6 separate regions of the Homo sapiens genome follow, and all the other regions are reported to be linked to region 4. The links are microRNA targets in miRTarBase. Many come from high-throughput screens and were not tested one by one. Region 4 holds a microRNA gene; each other region holds the end of a gene's coding sequence.
The links. The annotated mature microRNA hsa-miR-2276-5p reads GCCCUCUGUCACCUUGCAGACG and lies in region 4 at 1,566-1,587, opposite strand. An mRNA with a match to its seed (bases 2 to 7 or 8) in the 3' UTR can be bound and repressed. Matches are read on the target gene's strand: a 7mer-m8 pairs with bases 2 to 8, a 7mer-A1 pairs with bases 2 to 7 and ends in A, and an 8mer does both.

Region 1 (4,088 bases), not on the chromosome of region 4:
CACTTGAGTCCAGGAGTTGGAGACTGCAGTGAGCTATGATTGCACCACTGCACTCCAGCCTGGGCAACAGCAAGAAAAAAAAATGCTTCTAAAAAAACATGAATGAACGAATCATCAACCTCTGGGCACCAACAGTCTTCATGGAGTCAGGACTCTTAGCAACGTTGATTCAATGAATGAGGACAAGTATTCAGGTGGCCTTAAGGGGCTGGTGGCAGGAGTAGTAGGGTGAGAGCCTTGGGTTTGAGGGAGAAAACTCACCCCAACCTGAAGTTTCTACCCACCCAATCCCATCTGACCCAACTCAACTCACACCATTTCTCCATCACTCCTAACTAAACTCAATCCAACAGTGCCCATCAACGATGAATGAATTAGCTGAAGGTGGGAGATGACTGAATATTACTTGGCAATAAAAAGGAATGAAGTACTGATGCATGCTGCAAATAAACCTGGAAACCAGCCAGGCACTGTGGTTAATGTCTGTAATCTCAGCACTTTGGGAGATCGAGGTGGGTGAATCACTTGAGGCCAGGGGTTCGAGACCAGCCTGGCCGACATGGTGAAACTCCGTTTCTACTAAAAATACAAAAATTAGCCAGGGATGGTGGTGCGTGCCTGTAGTCCCAGCTACTCGCGAGGCTGAGAAAGGAGAATTGCTTGAACCCTGGAGGGGGAGGTTGCAGTGAGCCGAGATTGTGCTACTGCACTCCAGCCTGGGTGACAGAGCGAGACTCTGCCCACAAAACAAAAAACTCCTGGAAACCGTTTTGCTGAAAATGCCAGATACAAAGGGCCATATATCATTATATCATTTATTTGTATTTATTCCTTTTTTTTTTTTTTTTTTAGAGACAAGGTCTCACTCTGTTTCCCAGGCTGGAGTGCAGTGGTGAGATCACAGCTCACTGCAGCCTCCAACTCCTGGCCTCCAGTGATTCTCCCGCCTCAGCCTCTTGGGTAGCTGGGACTACAGATATGCACCACTGTACCTGGCTAATGTTTTTATTTTCATTTTTGTAGAGATGGGGTCTTGCTATGTTGCCTAGGCTGGTCTGGAACTCCTGGCCTCAAGCGATCCTCCTGCCTTGGCCTCCCAAAATGCTGGGGTTGCAGGAGTGAGCCACCTCACCTAGCGTGATTCCATTTATATGAAATGGATATTTCTGTCCAGAATAGGCAAATCCTTAGAGACAGAAAGCAGATTCGTGGTTGCCTACAGCTGGGAGGTTGGAAAGACATGAGTGACCACTAATGGGTATAGGATTTCTTTTAATTACACAGCTTAAATGGGTGAATTATATGGTAATGAATGGTAATGAATTATATGGTAATGGGTAAATGAATTCTATCTCAATAAATCAGTTAAAAATATACCTCAAACCAACATCTTACTCCTAATTCAAATCATCCCAAACCAAATTTTTTTTTTTTTTTGAGACAAGTTCTTGCTGTGGTGTCACCCAGGCTGGAGCACAGTGGTGCAATCTCAGCTTACTGCAACCTCCGCCTCCCAGGCTCAAGTCATTCTCCCACCTCAGCCTCCTGAGTAGCTGAAACCACAGGCATGCTCCTCCATGCCTAGCTAATTAAAAAAAATTTTTTTGTAAAGAGGCCAAACTTCTGGTTTAAGCTGACTTGGGCCTCCCAGCCCAAGCTGACAATTTTCAACTTTTCCTCTAGGAGCCTGGGTGAATAAATAGGCCTATAATCTCCAGTGAGTCTCATTATAATTGCATTCCCAAAAGACATACCTAATTAATACAGGTGGTGACAGGTACCTCAGATGAGACAAGAGCCAGATCCCAAGACAGATATGGGCCACATCAGATGAAAGAGATCAAGAGCTGGGTGAGGTGGCTCGTACCTGTAATCTCAGCAGCTCAGGAGGCTGAGGTGGGAGGATTGCTTGAGGCTAGTAGTTTGAGACAAGCCTGGGCAACAAAGAAAGACACCATCTGTACACAAACACACACACACACACACACACACAAAACAACCCAGCTGGGTGTGATGGTGCATGCCTGTGGTCCCAGGTACTCAGGAGGCTGAAGAAGGAGGATCACTCGAGTCCCAGAGTTGGAGGCTGCAGTGAGCCATGATCATGCCCTTGCACTCCAGACTGGGCGACAGAGTGAGACCCAGTCTCTAAAAACGAGCAAACAAGGGCTGAGCGTGGTGGCTCACATCTGTAATCCCAGCACTTTGGGAGATCAAGGCGGGCGGATCACCTGAAGTCAGGAGTTCAAGACCAGCCTGGCCAACAAGGTGAAATCCCATCTCTACTAAAATTATAAAAATTAGCCGGGTGTGGTGGTGCATATCTGCAACCCCAGCTTCTAGGGAGGCTGAGGCAGGAGAATTGTTTGAACCCGGGAGGCGGAGGTTGCAGTGAGCCAAGCTTGCACCACTGCACTCCAGCCTGGGCGACAGAGCAAGACTGCGTCTCAAGGATAAATAAATAAAACAAACAAACAAACAAAAAAATTTAAAAAAGAAATACACAGAGACAGAAACACAGTTCATCAGTTTATTCTCAGATTTGAGATGCAAATTATGCCCTATGGCCTGGCGGTGGGGGGCCAGGCTTGGGCTGGAATCTCTCATCATATCCCAGCCTTCCCTAAGGAGGAAGCAGATGAAATCTACAACAGGGGGGACTTTCCCTTTTAATACAGACCCAGGTATAAATAGGGCAGCACCATTAGGATCCTGATTCACCCCCCCAACATCTTGGTCCCCAAACCACCTGGCATGGCAAGGTGAGCCTGGGGAGGTGGGGGGCAGGGGGAGGGGATTTGCAGAGCTGGGCTGAGGCAGGAAAAGAAACACAACCCAGTCAAGGGAAGTCCCTCTTCCCTCTGTAGTCCGACCTCAGTCCTTTCACCGTGGAAGTAGAAAGGATCAAAGGGGGTGGGGGTAGGGGTCCCAGCCTGGGATCAGGAGACATCCAGTGCTTAACTCTGGGGAGGGGTAGCACCAAAAGGTGTGAAGGGCAGCGACGGAGGAGTGAGGAGGCAGGCATTGGGGGTGGGGGGGCTTTTGTTCATCAGCTCTGAGTTAGAAGCTCATTGCATGGGGGTTCAAGGGGTGGGGAGGTGAGGCTTGGGTGGGGAGGGAGGGGAGAAAGAGCCAGACTGCAGTATGCCACCTGGAATGGGGTGAGAGGAGGCTGGACCCTTGGGCCAGGGAACCCCAGCCCCCAGCACCCTGGAAAGGAGAAGGAATGACTGTCCGTGATGAGCGAAGTCACATCCCATTGGCTCCATAGTCACAGGTAACGAAAAATACGGTGGCTTCAAAGCCTCAGCACCAAATGCACCCCATTCTGGGGCTCCCTCATGGTCCCTCCCACCCCGGACACTCTCAGCTGCTGAAGCAGACGGGGCCCAGTTCAAACCCAAACTTTTGGTTCGTCTGGCCAAAGTCAGTGGCCGCCACATCCCACAGGGGCAGAAATCCCGCTCGAGAAGAGCTGAATTCGAAAAGGGTCTTCGTCTGTCCTTTCCGGAGCTGTCCCCAGAGAAGACAGAGACGGTGAGTTACCGGGAAGGTGGCCGACATCTTGCCTCCCCTCTCTAGCTGGCCACTGCCCCACCCTCTTACCCGGCAGCCATCCTGGGGGACGCTGACAGTGGCTGCTGTCGTCTGGTTGAAAGACAGCTCCTCTCCATTGGTGCCAAGGAAGCGGGCGGAGTGGCTGTAGTCACCCGTGGCTTCGTCCAGCCAGGCAGCTGCATTCTGGCAGGAGTAGGTGAAGTTCTGGCGAGCTGTGGCACTCAGCAGTTTCAGGAAGTTCAGCTGCACGACATTCACTGGGGACCCGTCGGCGTCCACGTAGGAGAACTGGTGAGAGGAGGGCAAGGCAGAGGATGAGGGGCTCCATGAGCCTCTTTCTGCAGAAGCCACCCCCTGGAATCTCCATCCACTGGCAGACAAGCCACCCCCCCCATGTCACCATCTCTGAGGAGGTCCCACCAGCCACCTAGAGATCCCTGGCAGAATCCCAAGAGTCACCTGAACATCCACTCTGTCCACCTCTCCATCCAGTAGGCCTCCATGCCCACTCCATCTGACCTCCCAAATTC
Region 2 (4,088 bases), not on the chromosome of region 4:
CTAGAGGGACAATGAGACAGATATTTAACAACTGGATTGTCCTGGGAAATCGGGTGGTATGGCTGCTGAAATGTTGAGCTGTATGTTGACACTTAATGACAGGAGAGAATAGGAGACTGGAAAGAGTTTAGTGTGTTAGCATGGTTGATTGGGGTGAGTCTCTCCAACATTTGATTTGACACTTTTATGCTGTTCATACAATACAGAAAGAAAAGCAGGCTTCCATTCACGCCTGGCTTTAATGCTGTGCAGCCCCTTTCCCTGTCCTTATCTCAGTCCCTGCCTGTTCTTTCTCCCCCGGGATGGATGCCGCCTCTTATCACTCTCCCACAGACTCCACCGCTGACCCTGAAGCCGTCCTGGCTGAAGCCTCATCCCGGCTCTACTCCCGGTTTGGATTCTCCAGCTGCACCCTGCAGGTCGAGCAGTATCAGCCGGAGATGGCCCAGTGCCTGCGCTGCCAGGAACCCCCCCAAGCCTGAGCCATGGCCCTGCCCTCACCCCACTGCCAGGCCGAGGCTCAGCCCCAGACTCTCAGCATCTGCTGCCCTGATCACAGAGACGGGACCGAGCCAGGTCCATACCCCTTCCTCTCTCCCTCCTACCACCTGCCAGTTTCCCCAGCCTCAGCCCCAGCCCCAGCCCCAGTGGGCAAGACCAAAGTGTGGCGGGGAGTGGGGTGGGAGTCAGGGGAATAGATGTGACTAGTTCAGGGGCGGGGACTCCCAGGCCTCAGTGTGGCAGGGTGTGTTGAAGGCCTGTGGTGCCATCTCCCCATGGTTCATGTGGAGCCACGAACATCCTTTCCCTGCAGTCCATTTGTCTGTGTGGCAGGCTGGCTGGCTGGGGGCATCTGCCTGTCTATGTGCTGTTGGTGTGCCTATGCCTGGGGGAGGTCAGTAGGGGCCCCCTCCCCACATGGCCCTCGCTCTGTCTATGCAGGGGCCCCAAAGCCCGCACTTTGTCCGTGTGTCTTAGCCCTGTGGTTTTGTCTGTGTGTGTGTGTGTGTGTGTGTGTGTGTGTGTGTGTGTGTTCTTGGTGCTGTGGCCTGTGTGTCTCTGTGCCTATGTGGCTGTGCTATGGTTTCTATGAGTCTGCTCCATCCATGTGTCTGTTTGGGGGTCTATCTCTCCATCCCTCTGTTGGTGCTGTGCCCTTGGCTATCCCTGAAAGAGGGAGGACTCCGCTGCAGCTCCACCAATAAACTTGTGTCTCACTGCATCTTTCAGCCTGTGTGCTGACTCCTCAGGAGGGGGAAGTCAAATAGGTCACTTGAGAACAACAGAATCCCTCCTGTCCCTTCCCAGCCTCTGGAGTGACCTCCCACAGACCTCCTGTCCCTTCCCAGCCCCTCCACCCTCAGATGGAGGGTAAAAGCCACCAGTCTCTTTACTCCCCTTCCCCTGGCTCACAGCATGCCTGGGTCCTTGGCTCAGGGACAGTCCCATGTGCCCTGGGCTTGGTTGCAGGAGAATGCTGGAAGGTAAGGAGCCAAGGAATCCCTGGGAGTCAGTCGTTCTCAGAGGTCCCTGCATGCCAGTGGGCCTCAGGCTGGCTGGAGGGAGGCTGGGTCCCTTTGAGGGAGAATGGCTAGACCATAGCACTGATGTGGGCTTGGTTCTCAGGCCATCTAAGGTGTCCAGCGGTAGGGACCCCTCAACCCTGATAGCAGCCAACCCTGAGTCCAGGTTTAGGCTGTGAACACCAAGGACCTCTTTTACACCTATTCCCCCTTTGTCTTAAGAACTGCATATTTTGACACATTAAGTCTTAAAATCAGGCTCATTAAGGGATTGTTGATTTTCTCTTTAAAAAAAATCAAACTCAAGCTGGACATAGTGGCCTGTGCCTGTAATCTCAGCCCTTTGGAGGCTGAGGCAGGAGGATTGTTTGAGCCCAGGAGTTCAAGACCAGCCTGGGCAACCTAGGGAAACCCCTGTCTCTACAAATAATTTAAAAATTAGCTGGGTGTGGTGGTGCATACCTGTAGTCCCAGCTATTCAGGAGGCTGAGGCAGGAGGATTGCCTGAGCCCAGGAGGTCAAGGCAGCAGTCAGCCATGATCATGCCACTGCACTTCAGCCTGGGCAACAGAGCAAGACCTTGTCTCAAAAAAAAAAAAAAATCAAACTCACTGGGTTTGGTGGCTCATGTCTGTCATCCCAGCACTTTGAGAGGCTGAGGCAGGAGGATCGCTTGAGGCCAGGAGTTCAAGACCAGCCTGGTCAACATAGTGACACCCTGTCTCTACAAAAAAAATTAAAAATAAAAATAAATTAGCTACGTGTGGTGGTGTATGTCTGTGGTTCCAGCTACTCAGGAGGCTGAGGTGGGAGGATCACTTGAGCCCAGGAGGTTGAGGCTGCAATGAACTATGATCATGCAACTGCACTCCAGCCTGAGCGACAGAGCAAGACTCCATCAAAAAAAAAAAAAAAGAAAAAAAAAGAAAAATCAGCTAGGCAAGATGGCTCACGCCTGTAATTCCAGCACTTTGGGAGGCTGAGGCAGGCAGATCACTTGACCCCAGGAGTTCAAGATCAGCCTGGGCAACATGGTGAAACCCTGTCTGTACAAGAAATACAAAAATTAGCTGGGCATGGTAGTGTGTACCTGTAGTCCCAGTTACTTGAGAGGCTAAGTGGGGAGAATCACTTGAGCCCAGGTTGTCGAGGCTGCAGTGAGCCATGATTGTGCCACTGCACTCCAGTCTGGGCAACACAGTGAGACTGTGTCTCAAACATGGTCAAACCCTGTCTCTACTAAAAAATACAAAAATTTGGCCGGGCACAGTGGTTCATGCCTGTAATCCCAGCACTTCAGGAGGCCGAGGTGGGTGGATCACCTGAGGTCAGGAGTTCGAGACCAGCCTGACCAACATGGAGAAACCCCGTCTCTACTAAAAATACAAGAATTAGCCAGTGTGGTGGCGCATGCCTGTAATCCCAGCTACTCAGGAGGCTGAGGCGGAAGAATTGCTTGAACCCAGGAGGCAGAGGTTGCGGTGAGCCGAGATTGCATCAGTGCACTCCAGCCTGGGCAACAAGAGTGAAACTCTGTCTCAAAAAAAAAAAAATTAGCTGGGCATGGTGGTGGGCACCTGTAATCCTGGCTACTCGGGAGGTTGAGGCAGGGAGAATCGCTTGAACCCGGAAGGCAGAGGTTGCAGTGAGCTGAGATTGCGCCACTGCACTCCAGCCTGGGCGACAGAGGGAGACTCTGTCTTAAAAAAAAAAAAAAAAATTAGACTCTGTGCTTTGATTTTAGATCTAGTGCTTCAGGCCTTCCCACCATGTTGATAAAATCCCAGCCCAAAGCAAGGACGTTGAGCATTTTCAATAGCCCATGCATATTTCTGTGAGCCTTCCTCATAATAGAAATATCTTTATTATCAGATTATTTTTACTATAAAAGCAATATATACTTGTTTTAAGGGTACAACAAAGGAAAAGTATATAAAGTAGAAAGTGAATGTTTCCCCTGTAATCTTACTTTCCGAGAAAACTGCTAATCCTAGTATGGGGTCAGTATTTCTACATAATAACAAAAATGGGGTCATCTTATAGGTGAGATCGTGTTACCTGTGTTTATGACTCAACCATGCAGCCTAGACTCATCTTTCCATGTCAAGACCATAGATTTCATTCCTTTTTAAAGGTGAGGCTTTTGGACTCATCAGAGGTAGCCCCCTCCCTGATGTCCAGCTGGGAGCCTTAGCCCAGGCTGGGTGAGACGCCACTGCCCACGTCAGGGTGTGGGAGGCTGGCGAAGCGAAGGGCTGGCAGTCCATCACGCCCGGCGGCAAGGCCGCCCCAGCTGCTCGCCATGCTTTGCTGGTTCCTGATACTTTCTCATTTTACGTCTCATTGATTATAGGCCCCAGGTGACAGGATGGGGGTGGGGAAGAGTGAGGAAATCGAGGAGAGGGAAGGAGGGTGGGGAACAGGAGGACTCGATTTTCACCCTATGAAATGCTTTAAGCCACAGCCTGTCCTATCTGTGCGATGCTGGGTCCCTTTGCAGGGGAATGCTCAGGGCAGGTGAATGCCTTCACCAAGCATCCAGTCCATCTTCTGCCCATAGAAGGA
Region 3 (4,085 bases), not on the chromosome of region 4:
AAACGTCACCTACCTTTGTGATGTTAACATTAACCTGCCAGGGTCTGGGCAGGCTGGCTCTGGCTTTCAGCTGTAACAATAATTATATGTGGCTAATTCTTTAACATACACACGGGCATACACTCACCACTTTGAGTGAAATGGTGAAGACCACCATTCAAACGGGCACAATTAAATCTGAAAATGGCTAAGAAGGTCCTATTCAGGTTCTCAAAACTCTTATGGTTCACTGGAGGCCCAGGAGGCCGTTTGTTTCTAGAAAAGCCAGCAACTAGATGAGGCCAGGCAGAGCAAGAGTCCTTTGTAAAGTTCTCTGTCCTTGTGAACGGAGGGAAAAGTTCTCAAAGCGGGTGTCTTCCGCGATGTTTAAATAAAATCTGTCAGTTTCACTATACTAACACAGAACAATAAAGTTATCCCTGGTTCATACTACATAGAGAAACAAAACTATTAAAGCTATATAGAAATTATTATCTATTTTTAAAAACTATATAGAAAAACAAAATCTTTCAAATAGTATCAATACTTGGGTTAAAGTGAAAGGACTCAGTACTTGATCTGAGTCTCAGGTATATTCAAAAAAGATACATTTATGAGCATTCATGTACACAGAACAAATACACACACACACCCCTACACATTCATGTATATATATGTATATACATATATATAAACGTGTACATATGTATACACACTTTGTTATCAAACATGTGCCTGCCATATCCTCATTATGATCAGTGCACTCATATGTGTGTGGGTATTTGTTTGTGTGTGTGTGTAATCAGGGCTTGAACCAAAGATCATTTACAGAAGACAGATCTGTTCCCTTTGTTTAGATGAGAGCAGAGAGGTATTCCTTCAGATTGCCTAAGAGTACAATGATAAGCTTGCTTCTGGCTCACCCTAATTATAGCTGAGATTTTGTTTTAATTAAGAGCAGAAACTATTGACCTTATTGAGCCATAATTTTGAGCCAACGATTAAATATGGATCAATAGAACAGCTATTCGGATTGGTAAGACCCAAACCTCCTCTTTTTGGTTCAGGAGGAAGGAATACACATGCAATTATATAGATTACATAAAAACGACCTCAGTATCCACTTGTCTTAGCTTTTCTAAACCAGACAAAAGTTGGGATTAAATAGAATTTCTCTTTATGCATGTATAAACACACAAAGTGGATACATCTGCATTTTTTCTGTGTCATAAAAGTAACATTCGTACAATACTTTTTGGAATAGTAACTTTAAAATACGACCCTTTTAAAACTGCAGTATCAAATTATTTGCTTCTTCAAAACATAGCCATCACAAATTAACAAAACCTCCCAAGATAACATACAAACACAAAAAAGAAAAAGGAAAGATTAAAAACCGATTCAATACGGCAGAATTAACTCATCGTGCTTTCTGATATGGAGGCAGCTTCCTGGGCCCGGCATCCTCTCCACTCCTTCCCCTCCATCTGTGTGTTTACCCCTCAGAAGCCAGAGCCTCCTGAGATGCTAACACGACTCCCAGATATAATCCCAGTCTCCTCTTTCTTATTACACTGTTTGTTTATTTCCCTCCAGTAATCCACTGAACCAGTCACTGAGAGGTTAATGAAAAAACAACTTTATTCACAGAGGCTGAGAGTTTGGGATAGCAAAATATCCAGTGACAGCCCTTTCGCTACATTTTCAGTGAATCACAGTGAGCCTGGATCTCAGCAATGGCTCCTCCTGGAAGTTCTTCCAATCAAGGCTGGCCTGAAGTTTCCCAGAGTCTTCCCACTGGCCTGGGTAGAACCCAGTCGTGGAAGCCTGGTTCAGCATGGATAGGAGAATGAATTTTCCAAAAGTCACCTCTATGCCTGTGAATTATCCAATTACTCTGCCGGCCTGAAATGTCCTTTCCAACACATTGACCAACAGGCCCTCTGGATTCAAAGTTTGTCATCATTTTTAGACAAGTCCTGGAAACTATTTTAAAAGCGATCTTAAAGACCTCCCTCCCAACCTATTTCCAATAGTGCGTGACTACTTGTGTCTTTATCACATGACATAAAATAAAAGTGACTTAGAGGTTCAGAAAATTGCATTTCAGGGCCTCGAAGATTACCCAGCTAGAGATGGCATAGAGGTCGGTTGCATTTCCCCGGAAGCTGCAAGCTGAACTTGGTTGTGAACATCTCAATGTTCTTAATTAGATTTTCGTTGCAGACCTCTTCTCCCCTCCCCAGACTGCCAGTCACCTCTTTAAGGTTTTGATTTAGTATCAGCCTCCAGGCCTGCCTGGCAGGGCTGGGAGGGAAGAGCGGGCGGCTGCAGGGGGTGCGGGGGCCAGGAGTGTCTGGGAGATTCCTGCCATCAAACCTCAGGTCCTCTGGGGCCCAGAGAGGCCCCTTCCAGCGGACACCAGCACGTCCCCTTATTCTTCCCCCGCATTCATCCCTCTCTCTCTCTGCATCTGCTTTTGGTTGTTTCACCCAACTTTTTAAATTAAATGTAGTCTTTCATTATCTGTTTCTGAAAAATATAGCGACCACCAAGCCTGGATCTTGAAAAAACATGGAAATCAAAACTCTGACATTGTCCAAGGCATATCCCCTTCCCCTCACACCCTTCCTCATGGTATCCCTTGAAATATTTTGATCCCTTAAAAACAAAAGCAAAAGGATAGGACGTCTGCTGTTGTGGCTTACATAGCTGCATGTGTATTGGCTAATGAGCTATCGTAATGCAAGAAGATGTTATATAGAGTGCACTTTCTTAATAAAAATTGTTAATACAAGCGTTTTCAAAGGTCAATGCTTAGAGTCAAGTATTTATGCAAAGAATGAAACATGTTCTTTTTACTACCCAGAAAGAAATTAAGAGAAAAAGTCTCTGTTTAAAATAAAAGTGTTATTGCTCTGGGTGGTTATCAGCTTCTATAGCTGAACATTGGTCATAAATCCTCATCGGGCCCTACATCTCTCAGAAAACCTGAAAACCCGGGGTCACCCCCGGCACCTCCACAACTTCAAGTCAGGAACAAACCCAGCTGTGACCACCCACCACCCAGATGGGCTCAAAACCAAGGCCTGAGCCACACGGCAACAGCGAAGCAGGCGACGGTCATACGGGGGTCCCCGGTCGAAAGGACCTCAACTGCACCTGTAAGGCCTGCCTTGGGTGGTCTGCGGGCCCTTGCATGCCCGGGACTCGCAGGACCTGCGGTGGGCGGCTGAAGACCACACTCCATTAGACAGGTCAAACGTCAAGGAATCTCCCGCGGTGGAGGTCCCTGCAGGGCCCACGTGCGGTGCCCACGACCCCGCGGGGATCTTTTAAGTCTCCGTAGCTGCTCCCAGTTGCTGGGAAAAGTTTGCTTCGGAGAAGGCAGGCGAGCGCGCCCACCTGCGCGCAATGGTTGGTAACACTTCCCTGAACCCACAGGCCGACCCAGGCAAAGATCATTTTAAAATCCTCCGCCGGTGGGAGCTGTGGCCTTTCGCTCAGCGGAGGCTCAGGCTGGGCCGGGAGAAGAACCGTGCCATTGTTTGCTTTACTGGAAGTGGAGTACCGTGTCGGGAACCTGCAGGGGGAAATAAGAGAGGAAGGGGATCCCGAGCTGGTAAAAGCCGCCCTGGACATGCGGGTCGAGCATCAGGGAAGCGTTGAAAGGCGGACGGAGGCTGGAGGAGGCGGCCAGGAGCGAGGCACCCAGACGGCCGCCGGGCCCAGGCTTGGCACCCCCTAGGAGTTCGTCCCCTGAAGGCGGCTTCTGGCCCTGCTTTCCCGCCAGGATGCTGTCTATGCTGAAGCTCTTGGACTTGTCGGAGCTCTTCGGAGAGCTGCGGGAGGCGGGGCGCAGAGGGGACCCCGGGCCGTCCCCTGTGCGCGCTGCCTGGCCGACCGCCACGGCCGCTGCGCCCTGGGCAGCGTCACCAGCGTCCTCGTTCGGGGACGCGGTCCCCGGCCAGTGGAGGGGCGCCGGCGGAGAGGGGCCGTCCAGGAGGGGCGAGGGGCCCGCGGGCGCTGCCTGCAGGCGGGAGATTGCGGGGCCCGAGCCCCCTGCCCCGCTCCCCGCCTCCGGCTGCGCCTCCGCGCTGCGCTGG
Region 4 (4,088 bases):
TTTATACCACTGTGATGTTATGATCCCATTTATGCTATTACATGTCTCATAGGCAAACATTTCTTAAATGTTTAGTTTTCAGACAAAAAAGAAAGGAAAGCACTGATGAGTTCCCCTTCTAAGTGAAACCTTCCAATGCCTCTTAGCTCAAGGGAAAGGAAGGGGAAAGAAACTTTGTTGCTTCCAGCAGCAAACAGAGAGGTCAACCTACCAAGCTATAGGGCCAGGCATTGAGCCCTGAACCAGAGAAGCCTTAGAGCCAACTTTGTCCTGCTGCTTTCCCTTGAATATGCCATTTTATTTCCCTGGACCACGGTTTCCTCATCTGTAGAATATAAAGTCCCTTTCAGCTATCAAGGTGCATGCTCTGCTTCAGTATCTGTAAAGTAGAAATACTACTTGCCTCCAACTCTTAGGAAGATAAAGACTAAAAAAGAAATGTTTGGACAAGGCTTTAAGATTACATAATGAAATGGATATAAATAAGACTCATACAGTCACACAGCTAACAGAGACCATAAAGATCTGTCCAGCTAAAGTGAAACGGAACTCTCAATGCACGGGAGGAGACAGCTGGCAGTAGTCTTCTTTTTTAATTTAACTTAATTTTTTTAGAGACAGAGTCTCTCGTTCTGTCACCCAGGCTGCAGTGTAGTGGCAAAATCATAGCTCACTGCAGTCTCAACCTCCCAGGCTCAAGAGATCCTCTCACCTCAGCCTCCTGAGCACCTTGGACTACAGGTGAGTGCGCCATCACAACCAGCTGATTTCTTATTTTTATTTTTTAGAGATGGGGTCTTGCTATGCTGCCTAAGCTGGTCTTGAACTCCTGGGCTCAAGCAATCCTCCTACCTCGGCCTCCCAAAGTGCTGGGATTACAGGCATGAGCCACTGTGCCCAGCCAGGTCATTTTTATGCCACTTTCTTCAGGGCTTCCTGTGGCTAAGAGGGAAAGTAGACTGATAGCATGGATGAGGTGACAGCCCAGGCACTGGCCCCAGGCTTTCTGAGGGACAGCCGGCATTAGGTTTTTCTCCATGCACTGTCCTACAGGTATAGAATTCATGTCCTCCACTGGTGTACATTGCAGACTAAATAAAACATGTCATATAACAACCTCCTTTCCAAAGCTAAACTCCAGGCATGCCTGAGTTCAAGAGGTCACCCAGCAGGGAAGCTCCACTGTCTGGTGAGAAGAGGGCCTCCACTGCTAGGCAGTGGCAAGAAGCCATGCCGGTTACCTCCTCTGAGCCTTCCTTTTCTCATCTGTCAAATGGGGACAGTAGTAGATCCTACATTATAGGGATGTGTGGAGGATTTTAAATGAGTACTGATGCACGTTAAGCCCTCAGAACAGTGCTTGGCACACACCCAGAGTTTGGTAGATGCTACCTAACATCAATATTGACATTAATTCTAGAACTATGTAGAGGATACGACTTCAATAAGAAAACAATCAGTCAGAAGCAGTGGCAGAAGGGAGGGTCCTGAAATCCAGAGTCCTCCTGCAGAGATGCAGCTGCCACTCCTCGCCTCTGACACTTGCAGACATTCGGAGAGAAAGCCGTCTGCAAGGTGACAGAGGGCGGACTGGAAGAACACAAGGAACCCAGGGATGCTGATGGAGCATGGAAAACCGCAGCAGAAGGCACTGAGGCAAGGTGTGCCCTCCAGGCGGGGCAGGCTGTGGCTGGGCAGAGCGCCTGCCAGGGAGAAGTAGGGCAAAGGGAAGAAAGCACCTGTGGGAGAAACATGGGGAAACAAGGAAGAAACCTGCATATGCACGGGAGCACAAATAAGGAAGGAGATGGGAGAACTGGGTGGAGGCAGATGGCAAACGTGGGGGCCAAGGGAGGTAGATGAGAATTAGGATATGGGATAATAAGACAAAGCCACATGAAACTCTAAAGTGCGGGAGGAGGGCAGAGAACAGGGAGGGTGCATGACAGGCACCCCGAGAATAATGCAGTGAGGAAGTTTGCAAGACGGGGGAGGGGGACATTAGGAAAAAAGGAGAATTTGTTGGGAAAGGTGGAAAAAGAAAAGGAGTGAGATTTCTCCGCCTGTTAGCAAGGGGAATAAAGGAGAGCAAATCGCTGGGTGACCAGGAAAGGTTCACAGAGAAGAAAACACGAGGCAGCAAAAACCGAAGGTGGGGACAGAGAAAATGCTGGCAGGGGGAGGTGCATAATATAAGGCTATGGGAAGCCATGGGAACAAGAGCTGAATAAATTCACAGTATTATTCTATTTATCCACATCCCTATGCAATGCTGGGAAGCAAATGACCCACAGGGTTTTGTTTGCTTGCTTTGGTTTGGTTTTCCTGCACTTGGAGGGAGGGGAAATTTGCTCAAGCTCTGTAACCTTGCAGTCAGATGGGTGGCCCAGCCCAAGTCACCCGAGCTCCCCCTGACGCTGGCAGCAGCGCGGGCTTCTACCTGCCTGGGGCTGGAGTACCAATTCCCCCACCTCCTGCACAGAATGGGACCAAACCAACTCCGCCAATGCATTCCCTGCAGTCCACAGACGATGGGCACCGGGTCCCAAAATCTTTCCCCTGGGACGAGACTCCGCTGGTACCAAGAGAAACTTGCTTTCTAAACTAAGCTCTCCAACCGCATCGCTCCGGGTCCCCGGAGGCACCAGCCACGCCACCCGATGGAGCAGAGCGTTACAGGGCTCCGCCGCGCCAGGCTCCCCAGACTCTGCCACCCCCACGGCCGCCCCTGTAGGCCAGGCCCCGCGAGCTGGGAGCGCGGGTGAAGTTACAAGGCGACCTCCCTGCAGGCTTCCGGCTGGAAACGGCCTTTTGCGAGAACACCACGTGCATGTCCTCCCAAAAGCGATGGTGCCGGGTGGCCCAGAGGGCGCAGAGCCACCGCCGGGCAGGGAGCGGGCGCACGGACCTAACAGGTGAGCACCCGGTAGCCTCCACCGGCGGGGGAAGCAGAGGCCAAGCAGCTGGGAGCTGGACATCCCGAAGCCCCGAGGCAGTCCACTGGGACTCAAATCCTCCCGATATTCTACCTAACAGCCCATGCCCGCGCCCGCCCGGCAGAGCCGCGCGCCCGAAGCCGTCTTACCTCCTGCGGCGCCTCTTGGCGGAGCCTACAAAGTCAGCGTGTCCAACACGTCCCTGCCCTCAGAGCCACCTCCGGTGCCGGCGGAGCCCCGAGGTCGCCGCACTCTCGGAGGAGCCTGGGATCCAGTGCGCGCCCTCGGAGCTAGCGACCGGCAGGGCGATCGCGGGAGAAAGCGCAACGCACACTCTCCTCCCGCGCCGCGGCAGCACACTCAGCCAAGCCACGCCCCAGCCCCGCTCCCCACCAGGCCACGCCCCCAGCCCGGCTCTTCCCCCCGCCCCATATCAGGCCACGCCCCCGGTTAGCTCACTCCCTCAGGCCACACCCTCGGCCACGCCCCCACACTACCAACCACAGCCGGGGACCCCACCCATCAAAAACAGTTCCCCGGCCAGGCGCAGTGGCTCTTGCCTGTAATCCTAGCACTTTTGGAGGCCGAGGTGGGCGGATCACCTGAGGTCAGGAATTTGAGAGCAGCTTGGCCAACATGGTGAAACCCCGTCTCTAATAAAAATAAAAATTAACCGGGCGTGGTGACAGGCGCCTGTGATCCCAGCTACTCAGGAGGCTAAGGCAGGAGAATCACTTGAACCCGAGAGGCGGAGGTTGCAGTGTGCCGAGATCGCGCCACTGCACTCCAACCTGGAGGACACAGCCAGACTCCGTTTTTTAAAAAAAGAAACAAACAAAAATAGTTCCCTCAGCCACCAGCCAGCCCCCACCCCCCAGGGCGGGAAGAGGAGTCTCATCTCCGGGGCAACCGTGCCCCACTGCCCACTGCCTGGGCCAGAAGTTCACTCCCTGTGAAAGGAAAACGCAGGGTAGGGATTTTTAAACCTACATGTTTCCCAGGGCCTGGGGCAAGTCTTGAGTAGACTGTTGCAGTAAACCGACTCAAAGGCCTATCACCTTTCTTGTGAGGCTCAAGGCCTAATCATTAATTGACATGAAAACCACAGAAGAGAAGCAAACCCTTCTGTGCTGGGATCTGTGCCCCAGTGCT
Region 5 (4,088 bases), not on the chromosome of region 4:
GCTTTTTCAATTAATTTATTACCTTGTGGTAGCAATCCTGAAGAACATTGTCTATTTCCTGTGGTGTGTTACCAAGCAGGTGATTAATGGCATAGAAAGTTGCCTTTACCGCCTGGGCTCAGCCACCATCTCATACTTCATGGCCATTGGGGAAGAGTTGGTGAGCATTCCCTGGAAGGTGCTCAAGGTCGTGGCCAAAGTCATCAGGGCTCTCCTCCGGATCCTTTGTTGTCTGCTGAAGGCCATTTGCCGAGTTCTGAGCATCCCTGTCCGTGTCCTTGTGGATGTGGCCACTTTCCCTGTGTACACCATGGGCGCTATTCCAATTGTTTGCAAGGACATTGCACTGGGCCTTGGTGGCACTGTCTCACTGCTCTTTGACACTGCTTTTGGTACCCTGGGTGGCCTATTTCAGGTGGTTTTTAGTGTCTGCAAGCGGATTGGCTACAAGGTTACTTTTGACAATTCTGGGGAGTTATAAACTCAAAAAACTAATAGTATCCAGTCACAGTGAATTTGAAAGCTGGAATAGTTTGTCTTTACAATGGGTTTCTGTTCACTGTCAGTTATCATTATATTTTGGCCTTTGGTGGGGATGTCTGCTTGTTTTTGCAAAAGAAGATGGCAGAATTTAGACTTGACAGAGGAGAAATGCTCAGGGTGAGATTAGGTGTAGTAATCTGCTGTTTACCTCCAGTTATATGTGCAAACTCCCAAGCCACTAATAACTTCAGTTATGCACTCTAACACAGACGACCACCTGAAATGCACTGGTATTTATTTCTGATAATTAAAAATTACAGGGGAGGGAAGAACTAGAAAAAGAACAACTTTAGACCAAAGGTGTCTGAGAAAAGGAGAAAGGGAGCTTGTTCTTCCCATTGCTCTTTGTGATTTAAGGCAAAACAGATTAAAAAAAAAATCTGCAGCCAATTTCTTGGCATTTGCTTCTCTTTCTCCTCAACTCGACTGACCTTGGTGGAATGCAGATAATGCCTCTTTGTTGAAATAACTTTGTGGGAATGTACAATTTTCTATATCTCTTAGCTTTCCGTGGTTCTCAAGGATATGTACAGTTTTCATTTTCCTCCAAAGTTGAATTTTGCTACATTTTTCTTTTAGGTAATGATAAGCATTTTTTAAAAAATCATTTTTAGGTAATGGTAAGCATTTTATGCCAAATGTGGCATAACAGAGTTTGAATTGAAGGGCAAAGTTTTCTTTTCTTTTTTTTTTGGGCCCCTTGAATGGTATAATACAGTCCTCTCCGGTGGAAAGAAGAGAAGAGAAGGTGGACAGCCCTGCTCTTAGTAGGTGCTGCAGATCCAAGGACATCTTTTGTCCAGCTTGGATTAACTTGACGTGTATCCCTGCCTGACAAGGTTGAACTGAAAGATCTATATGTTAAGCTAACATGAAAATTCATATTCTGCAACATAGTAGATTTTTCTAATGCATGAAATAAGTACCCAGCACAGTAAAAATACTCTGACTTATGTCCCTAAATGGTTGTTTTGATACAACTATATAGAAAAGAGCCACAAAATAAAGATAAAAGTTATTGTGGCCATCTCTGAAAAAAATATATAAAATATTTAAGAATAATTATATCTTAGGAAATTATTTTTACAGTGTGTTTGAGGCTACAAACATAACTCCCCCATTAATACAAATTAAATGTGAGAGCTCATTCTCAAAATTTTTTTGATCAAGCACTTGTCATTTTAAATCTTGCACTAAAAAATGGTAACAAGAGGGACCAAACTTTGCTTCCCACAATTGGGATGGAATCACCTGGATTTTTCTGAATGTTTTAAAGAATTGCTGAGAGGTAGAAACAGCCAAGTATGAAATACTGATCTTGGGGCTACCGCCCAGGATCAATCAGAAAGTTATATGCAAAAATTCGGGGTCCCAACAAGGAGAGAACAATATGTCAACCATTTGCATGGGGTCGATGGATGAGAAACATGAGCGTAGCAAGAGTTACATTTTGCAGAAAAATAGCGGAGGCACACCCAGAGTAGAACAGCAGCCAGCAAGCTGCCATCCTGATCAATTTGTGATGCAAGGTTAGGGAGTATGAGCACCGCATGGGTCCATGCTAGGGAGATGTGCACCAGGCTTAGCTAAGAAACTTAAAGCAGTATTTTACCAACTCTTGTCTTAGGGAGCATAAAGTTTGGATGTCCCTTTATTTCAGCAGTGTGAAGGTAAATGGAAGGGTGAGGGTTTGACTTGGTACTGATTGGTCAAGAATCCTGCTGGATAAAGAAAAGGAATTTTAGAAGTGACCAGAGGGACAGTCCAGCCAAACTATTATTTGATAAGGAACCCAAGGCCCTGGGAGGCAACAGGCTAGCCCTTAGTTTCATGGCTAGCTGAGAGCAGATTAGGAGCCAACGTTGTTTGCACATGTCCCATCACACCTGAGATGTCAGACATGGGAAGTTCGTGCTATTATTCAGTTGCCTCTCTGGACCATGGCAAGATTTCCTCATTCATCAAACAGACTCCAGGCCCTGACAAAGCAGTTGGATTTGGCATGTGTGATGAAAACAATTAGCCATCCATGTACAACATTATGCTTACTGCATCCCATGGAAACTTAATTCCCTCCTAGCACATATTTGCATACTGAAAGGTCCGAAAAGGGCATCCACGGCAGCTTGAGCCCCTTAGCACCATGTAAGGAGCACAGCATCCAAACGGCTTCTTGAGAACCATTGGGGAATGTCTTTCTTTTTCACATCCAATTGTTTAGTGTCTATTTATTCTTGGGTGGCCAGTTTTGAAACCTAAAAAGGGACAATAAAGCAAAAAGTATCAGTAAGGATAGGTGGCTGAGACCCACTGCCCTGAGCTACTAGTGTGGCTGTGCCTGTGGGTCTCTAGAACCATCTGCATTGGACGTGAAGCCACAGCAGGTGGCTGGACTGCTGGCCTGTTCCTAATGAGCTACGCTGGGCTTTGAGGTAGAGGTTGGGGTTTATGAACCCCAACTCTGGCTTAAAGATCTTGCTGTGGCTCTGTTATGTTCTGAGGCCTTGGGATTAGCCTCTTCCTCATTATGGAGCTGATTTTCTAGTCTGTGGATCAGCTATGCCTTTGGACACTTCTCTTTTCCATTGTGCCTTTTGAATGTTGTCTTCTCACTCAGCATCAGCACTTCGATCTAAATGCAGACTAGGTAGTTGGGAGGAGGAACCAAAGTGAACCATCCTTCATTTATTCAGTCATTCGTTCATCTGTCAAACACGTATTTGGACATCAAGGTTGCAGAGATGAACAATGCATGGATTTCATCTTTGAGGAGTTCAAAACCTAGTGGAGAGAACACATGGTACAATCGTAACACATGAAGGACAAGTAAGTGCTGCAGTAAAGGTACTAATAACATGTTCCTTGGAACAGAGGAAGAAAAACCACGAAACCATGGAAATTAGGGAAGCCTTTACAGAGGGTGTGACAAAACTCAATTTGACATTTTCAAGCTATGTACAATGATGTGCACCTTGCAGATGCTCAATAAAGTAATTACTGACAACTCGTTAGCAGTTCTGTAAAATATCTAAAAGGGGAGAATCCTAATAGTTGAAATGAGGCTTGGGGACTGTGAATTGTTGCCATTTTCTTCTTGATCCGCATTAATTCAAGCAGCTTCCAGTGACTGGCTTTTGTTCATTTCTTTAAAAGTTTGCATCATACATGAAAAAACAGAGAGGTCTGGATCAGTGAAACAGGACTTAGAACTATTTTTTAATGTTATTGCTCTGCAAAGTATTTGGGACAATAAGTGTTTTTGATATCTTGCATAATTAAGCACCAAAGACTTACTGCTTCACTGAATCTGAATCACATAGAAAATTATAGAAATACTTTTATTAGTTTGTTTATTCATTAGGAAGCTCCCACAGTGAGAGAAATTACAAGCAGTCTCTGACGGGGGCTGGTCCTCTCTGTGGCCTTTAGTAGGGTGATCCTCTTGGGTGGAGGTGGCAGTAATTCTTGGCTGCCTTCCCAGTGTGGGCAGCATCTTGCCTAAGCTCACCACAGAATACGTGTTTGTCCAAATGTTACACTACAAG
Region 6 (4,088 bases), not on the chromosome of region 4:
TGTACCTTCCCCCTTTTTGGTGGTTGTTTATACAAGTAACTTGAGTCATTATACAGTTATATTCCATTATGCCAAAGTTTATCCATTATCCCGTGGATGGACTTCTGGTGCTTTCTGTTTTGCTATATAAACAATACTGTGTACATTTTTGTACATCTCCTTTACACATGAAATAGTTTCTGACATGTTCATGTGCATACAAATCATTTGGTGGGTCTTGTTAAAATACAGACTGATTCAGTAAGTTTGGGGTGGGACTGCAAATTGTACTCATATGAGGAAAAATGGGGGAAACATATAAAGGTAATGCTATTGTAGAAAATACAAAAAAAAAAGACAAAGTGTCCTCATAATCTAGTATGTGGTATAGCAGAGTGGTTTAAAGCATGGCCCCTTTAAATTCAGTGTTTGAATTACAACTCAACTACTTGGAAGTTGAGTGACTTTGGATAGGTCATTTAATGTCTCCAAATCTTGCTCTTCTCATTTTGAAAATGAGAATTGTTATAATAGCACCTAGGTTATATGGTTGTGATGAGGCAATTTGCTAATATACTAGATACAGAATGCTTAGGACATTGTCTGGCACATAGCAAAAACTCACTAAAATTTGAGCTATTATTGTTAAGTTTTAGCCTCCCCCCCATTAATATATTCTTTCTCTCCAAATTGGATCACACTGTACATGCTCTTTTTATAGCAAACTCTCGTCCACTGATTGCAGAATGAAAACATTTCCAAGTTATTCTCTATTAAGTCATTTAGAAAGGCTGTTTAGTATTCCAATGTATGTATCTACCACAATTAAATCATTGTTTGATGCTTCAAGTTGAATTATTTTACTCATGAATAATACTGCATAGCTAAATCATTTTATACCTTTTAGTTTTAATATCAGCTCACTTTCTCTCCCCTTTTAATCAGCTCTCAGCTGTTACCATTCTCCCCTTCTAATCTGTGATCAGATAATCAATCGAGTTAAATCAGTTTATTTGCTATACCTTATCTACAATTCTGTCACTTGCTCTAGACCTTAGGTGAAAAGGACAGCTATTACAGCAGCTGTGAAGGCAGGCTATTTTTGCCTATTTTAGGGTATGCCTCTTAGTTAGTCCAGCTCTGCTAGTCTCACTGGATATGAGATTAGGAGATACCATCCAGAAGATGCTGGCACATCCTTTTGTTGTGGGTGCCTTTTCCCTTCTACTACCTCCCTCTTGGGGTCTGAACACTCAACCTACCTTTATACCCAGCTGCTGCCACCTCATTGTTACCTGTTTCTGATTTTCTGAAGCCGCGATGCCCCTTAGCCTAGGTCTGGGAGTTACCAGTTTTCTTGACTTCTGACACCAGTATGTATGCATGGTGCTAGTTTCTACTTTGTGGGCCTCTCTGCTTTAGTTTCTCAAAATTTTTTAGTAGCCTGTAGCACTTATTTGTGCTTTTTAAAAAACTTCGGATCCTGTTAAATTCCCACATTTTTGTCTATATGGGAGCACAGAAAACAGACTTCAACAATTAAAACTCCCAAATCAGGTATTACTAAGTAGCCTAAATCCAGCTGGATAGTCCTGTTTCCCAAACTTGCCTGAAGGACCACAAGGAATACCTGTTGACATATTCCCAAGCCCATCCCAATGGGCAGCTCCTGTAATTTGGATATGTTATCTGGATATATTATTTAACACCCCAGGTGATTCCTATAATCAGGCACAGTTGGAAACAATGGGCTTTTAACTAGGATTTTCTGAGATCTTCCAGGACACTGGGAAGTTCAACTGAGACCTCAGGGAGCTTGTATGCAATTTAGAGGTAGTGTAGGGGTCATCCCGGGGGGGGGGGGGGCGGGGCAGGAAAATTCTAGGATTCAAGTATTAGTTCGAATACTGGAAAGTCTGTAGAGCTTGAGACCAAAGAAGGAATTTATGCTCTTTTTGTTTTAATCTTGCTCCTTCTAAAGGAACTTATGCTCTATTTACCATCTCTACACCAGCATGGTTTCAAATATATATCCCCTGGTTATAGTATAGATTCTGTACCAAACACTGGGGTTCCAGAACTGTCAGATGAGTCATGCAGCTCCTCAAAAAGTGTAATGGAGCCAGGCATGGTGGCTCATGCCTGTAATCCCAGAAATCTGGGAGGCTGAGGCAAGCGGATCATGAGGTCAGGAGATCAAGACCATCCTGGCTAACATGGTGAAACCCCGTCTCTACTAAAAATACAAAAAAATTAGCCGGGCGTGGTGGTGGGCGCCTGTGGTCCCAGCTACTCAGGAGGCTGAGGCAGGAGAATGGCGTGAACCCAGGAGGCGGAGCTTGCAGTGAGCCGAGATCGCGCCACTGCACTCCAGCCTGGGCGACAGAGTGAGACTCCGTCTCAACAACAATAACAACAACAACAACAAGAACAACAACAAAAGTGTAATGGAGAATGCAGGTCTTTTGAGGACTGAATCCTTTGCATACGTTAAAATCATTTGGAGGGCATATCTTTTATTATGTAAGGTTTTATATTCACTTAGAAAAATCAGCTGAATGCCAGAACCGTGTTAGTAACTGCTCTGGCAGTGCTAGCTATGCAATTTTTGAGGACTGAGAAAGCGCAGAAGTCTGATATACCTGCTTCAACTCGTGACAGGCATTTAGTTTCTTGGATCATCCATATGTAAAATATAAATCTTACTCCCTCAATCTGAGGACACAGGGAGATCCAAACATGCACAATAATTCTTTTTTTGTTGGGGGAGGGCAGGAAAGGGGATGGAGTATCGCTCTGTCACCCAGGCTGGAGGGCAGTGGTGTGATCTCAGCTCACTGCAACCTCTGCCTCCCGGGTTCAAGTGATTCTCCTGCCTCAGCCACCTGAGTAGCTGGGATTACAGGTGCCCGCCACCACACCCAGCTTATTTTTTGTATTTTTAGTAGAGATAGGGTTTCACCATGTTGGCCAGGCTGGTCTCGAACTCTCCTGACCTCAAGTGATCTGCCCGCTTCAGCCTCCCAAAGTGCTGGGATTACAGGTGTGAGCTACTGTACCTGGCCATGCCTGAGAAGATCTAGAAACAGAAACTGGTGAATCCTGACCCCACTACACACATTATTTATTCACATGAGATCACAATTTGTTTCTCTTACAACTCATCCATTTGACAGACTAATGTGATGAATAAATAGAATTCTATAAAAGTGAGGCCAAAATAAAAAGCAGCCTAAGATTGTTGAAGAAAACTCAAATGGTGGTCCACGAGACCGCCAAAGTTGAGAGGGAACCAAACTTATCGGGGGGGAAATGCCCCTATGGTTCTAAAACTAAAAGCTTGTCACTCTTTACAAACTGATTTATCTCTTTGAGAGAATCCTGAACATGAAGTCATGCTACTAATGTTTACTCTAAAAGTAGGTTAAATATTTGAGCATGTTCCCCCTAATAATTACAGAAATTATCTCCTTCCTAAAAAAAAAAGTTTAAAACTTTAAATTGTGAGACAGTAAAGTGGTATGGCATGAGAAAAGTACTTTATTCGTGCATAATTTTTCAGTTCCATTCAAAATTACAGTACAAAAAAATTCCCTTGCTTGCAGAGTTTTTGTTACTTTTTACTTAAATATTTAGAGTTAAGAAAAAAATCAAATTTAAAATCACTATTGATGGAAGCTTATATTCCTTATGAATATATACATGTATGCATATATACATCTCTGTATGAATCACTCAAAGCAATTTTAAACATCATTCTTTTTTGTATTTAAAATTGCCCTTTTAAACATTTAGAAGTTCCAGAGGTGGAGGCTTTAATGGAATTTTTCCCAGAGTAAATTTCTTGGATTGAAATTGTTCCAGTTCTTCTACTGTTAGTTTATCTCTGGGTGTGAATAACACATTATCTGTTGCAATGATGCTGCTTGAGGCTGACAGAGAAGTGGATATGCTGCTATTTCCAAAAGTGTCACTGGATGGCTTAGAAAAAGCAGTGTGAGAATGTGAGCCCGGACTACCAAAACCAGCCACAGAACTGCCACCTCCAAAGGCTGGGGCCACTGGAGCTCTGACAGGACCTGTTGCCAAGGAAGCTGGAAGTCCTGAAA

Region 1: the mRNA of COL5A3 is a reported target of hsa-miR-2276-5p. Seed matches in the 3' UTR shown: 8mer at 2,857-2,864 and 7mer-A1 at 2,850-2,856.
Region 2: the mRNA of SLC30A3 is a reported target of hsa-miR-2276-5p. Seed matches in the 3' UTR shown: 7mer-A1 at 1,173-1,179.
Region 3: the mRNA of FOXL1 is a reported target of hsa-miR-2276-5p. Seed matches in the 3' UTR shown: 7mer-A1 at 2,434-2,440 and 7mer-m8 at 1,919-1,925.
Region 5: miRTarBase lists ENDOD1 as a target of hsa-miR-2276-5p. Seed matches in the 3' UTR shown: 7mer-A1 at 1,753-1,759, 8mer at 2,296-2,303 and 7mer-m8 at 3,458-3,464.
Region 6: the mRNA of NUP42 is a reported target of hsa-miR-2276-5p. The part of its 3' UTR that is shown has no 7-base or 8-base seed match.

What each region holds. Positions count from the first base shown.
Region 1 is chr19:9,957,045-9,961,132 of GRCh38, forward strand. It overlaps COL5A3 (collagen type V alpha 3 chain), which reads right to left. Exons shown (of 67, transcript NM_015719.4): 66 at 3,607-3,846; 67 at 2,517-3,513. The coding sequence ends at 3,367. Among named protein-coding and RNA genes, the nearest start is that of OLFM2, 23 kb to the left of the region's middle.
Region 2 is chr2:27,251,706-27,255,793 of GRCh38, reverse strand. SLC30A3 (solute carrier family 30 member 3) reads left to right here. Exons shown (of 8, transcript NM_003459.5): 8 at 334-2,110. The coding sequence ends at 482. Among named protein-coding and RNA genes, the nearest start is that of SLC30A3, 9.3 kb to the left of the region's middle.
Region 3 is chr16:86,579,209-86,583,293 of GRCh38, reverse strand. FOXL1 (forkhead box L1) reads right to left here. Exons shown (of 1, transcript NM_005250.3): 1 at 1-4,085. The coding sequence ends at 3,533. Among named protein-coding and RNA genes, the nearest start is that of FOXL1, 2.7 kb to the right of the region's middle. RefSeq lists an enhancer at 3,264-3,885.
Region 4 is chr13:24,159,930-24,164,017 of GRCh38, reverse strand. It overlaps MIR2276 (microRNA 2276), which reads right to left and starts at 1,602; the gene lies at 1,514-1,602. It overlaps SPATA13 (spermatogenesis associated 13), which reads right to left and starts at 3,298. Exons shown (of 13, transcript NM_001166271.3): 1 at 3,086-3,298. RefSeq lists a silencer at 3,348-3,407.
Region 5 is chr11:95,129,099-95,133,186 of GRCh38, forward strand. It overlaps ENDOD1 (endonuclease domain containing 1), which reads left to right. Exons shown (of 2, transcript NM_015036.3): 2 at 1-3,547. The coding sequence ends at 481. Among named protein-coding and RNA genes, the nearest start is that of LNCRNA-IUR, 19 kb to the right of the region's middle.
Region 6 is chr7:23,200,420-23,204,507 of GRCh38, reverse strand. NUP42 (nucleoporin 42) reads right to left here. Exons shown (of 7, transcript NM_007342.3): 7 at 3,502-4,088. The coding sequence ends at 3,763. Among named protein-coding and RNA genes, the nearest start is that of NUP42, 20 kb to the right of the region's middle.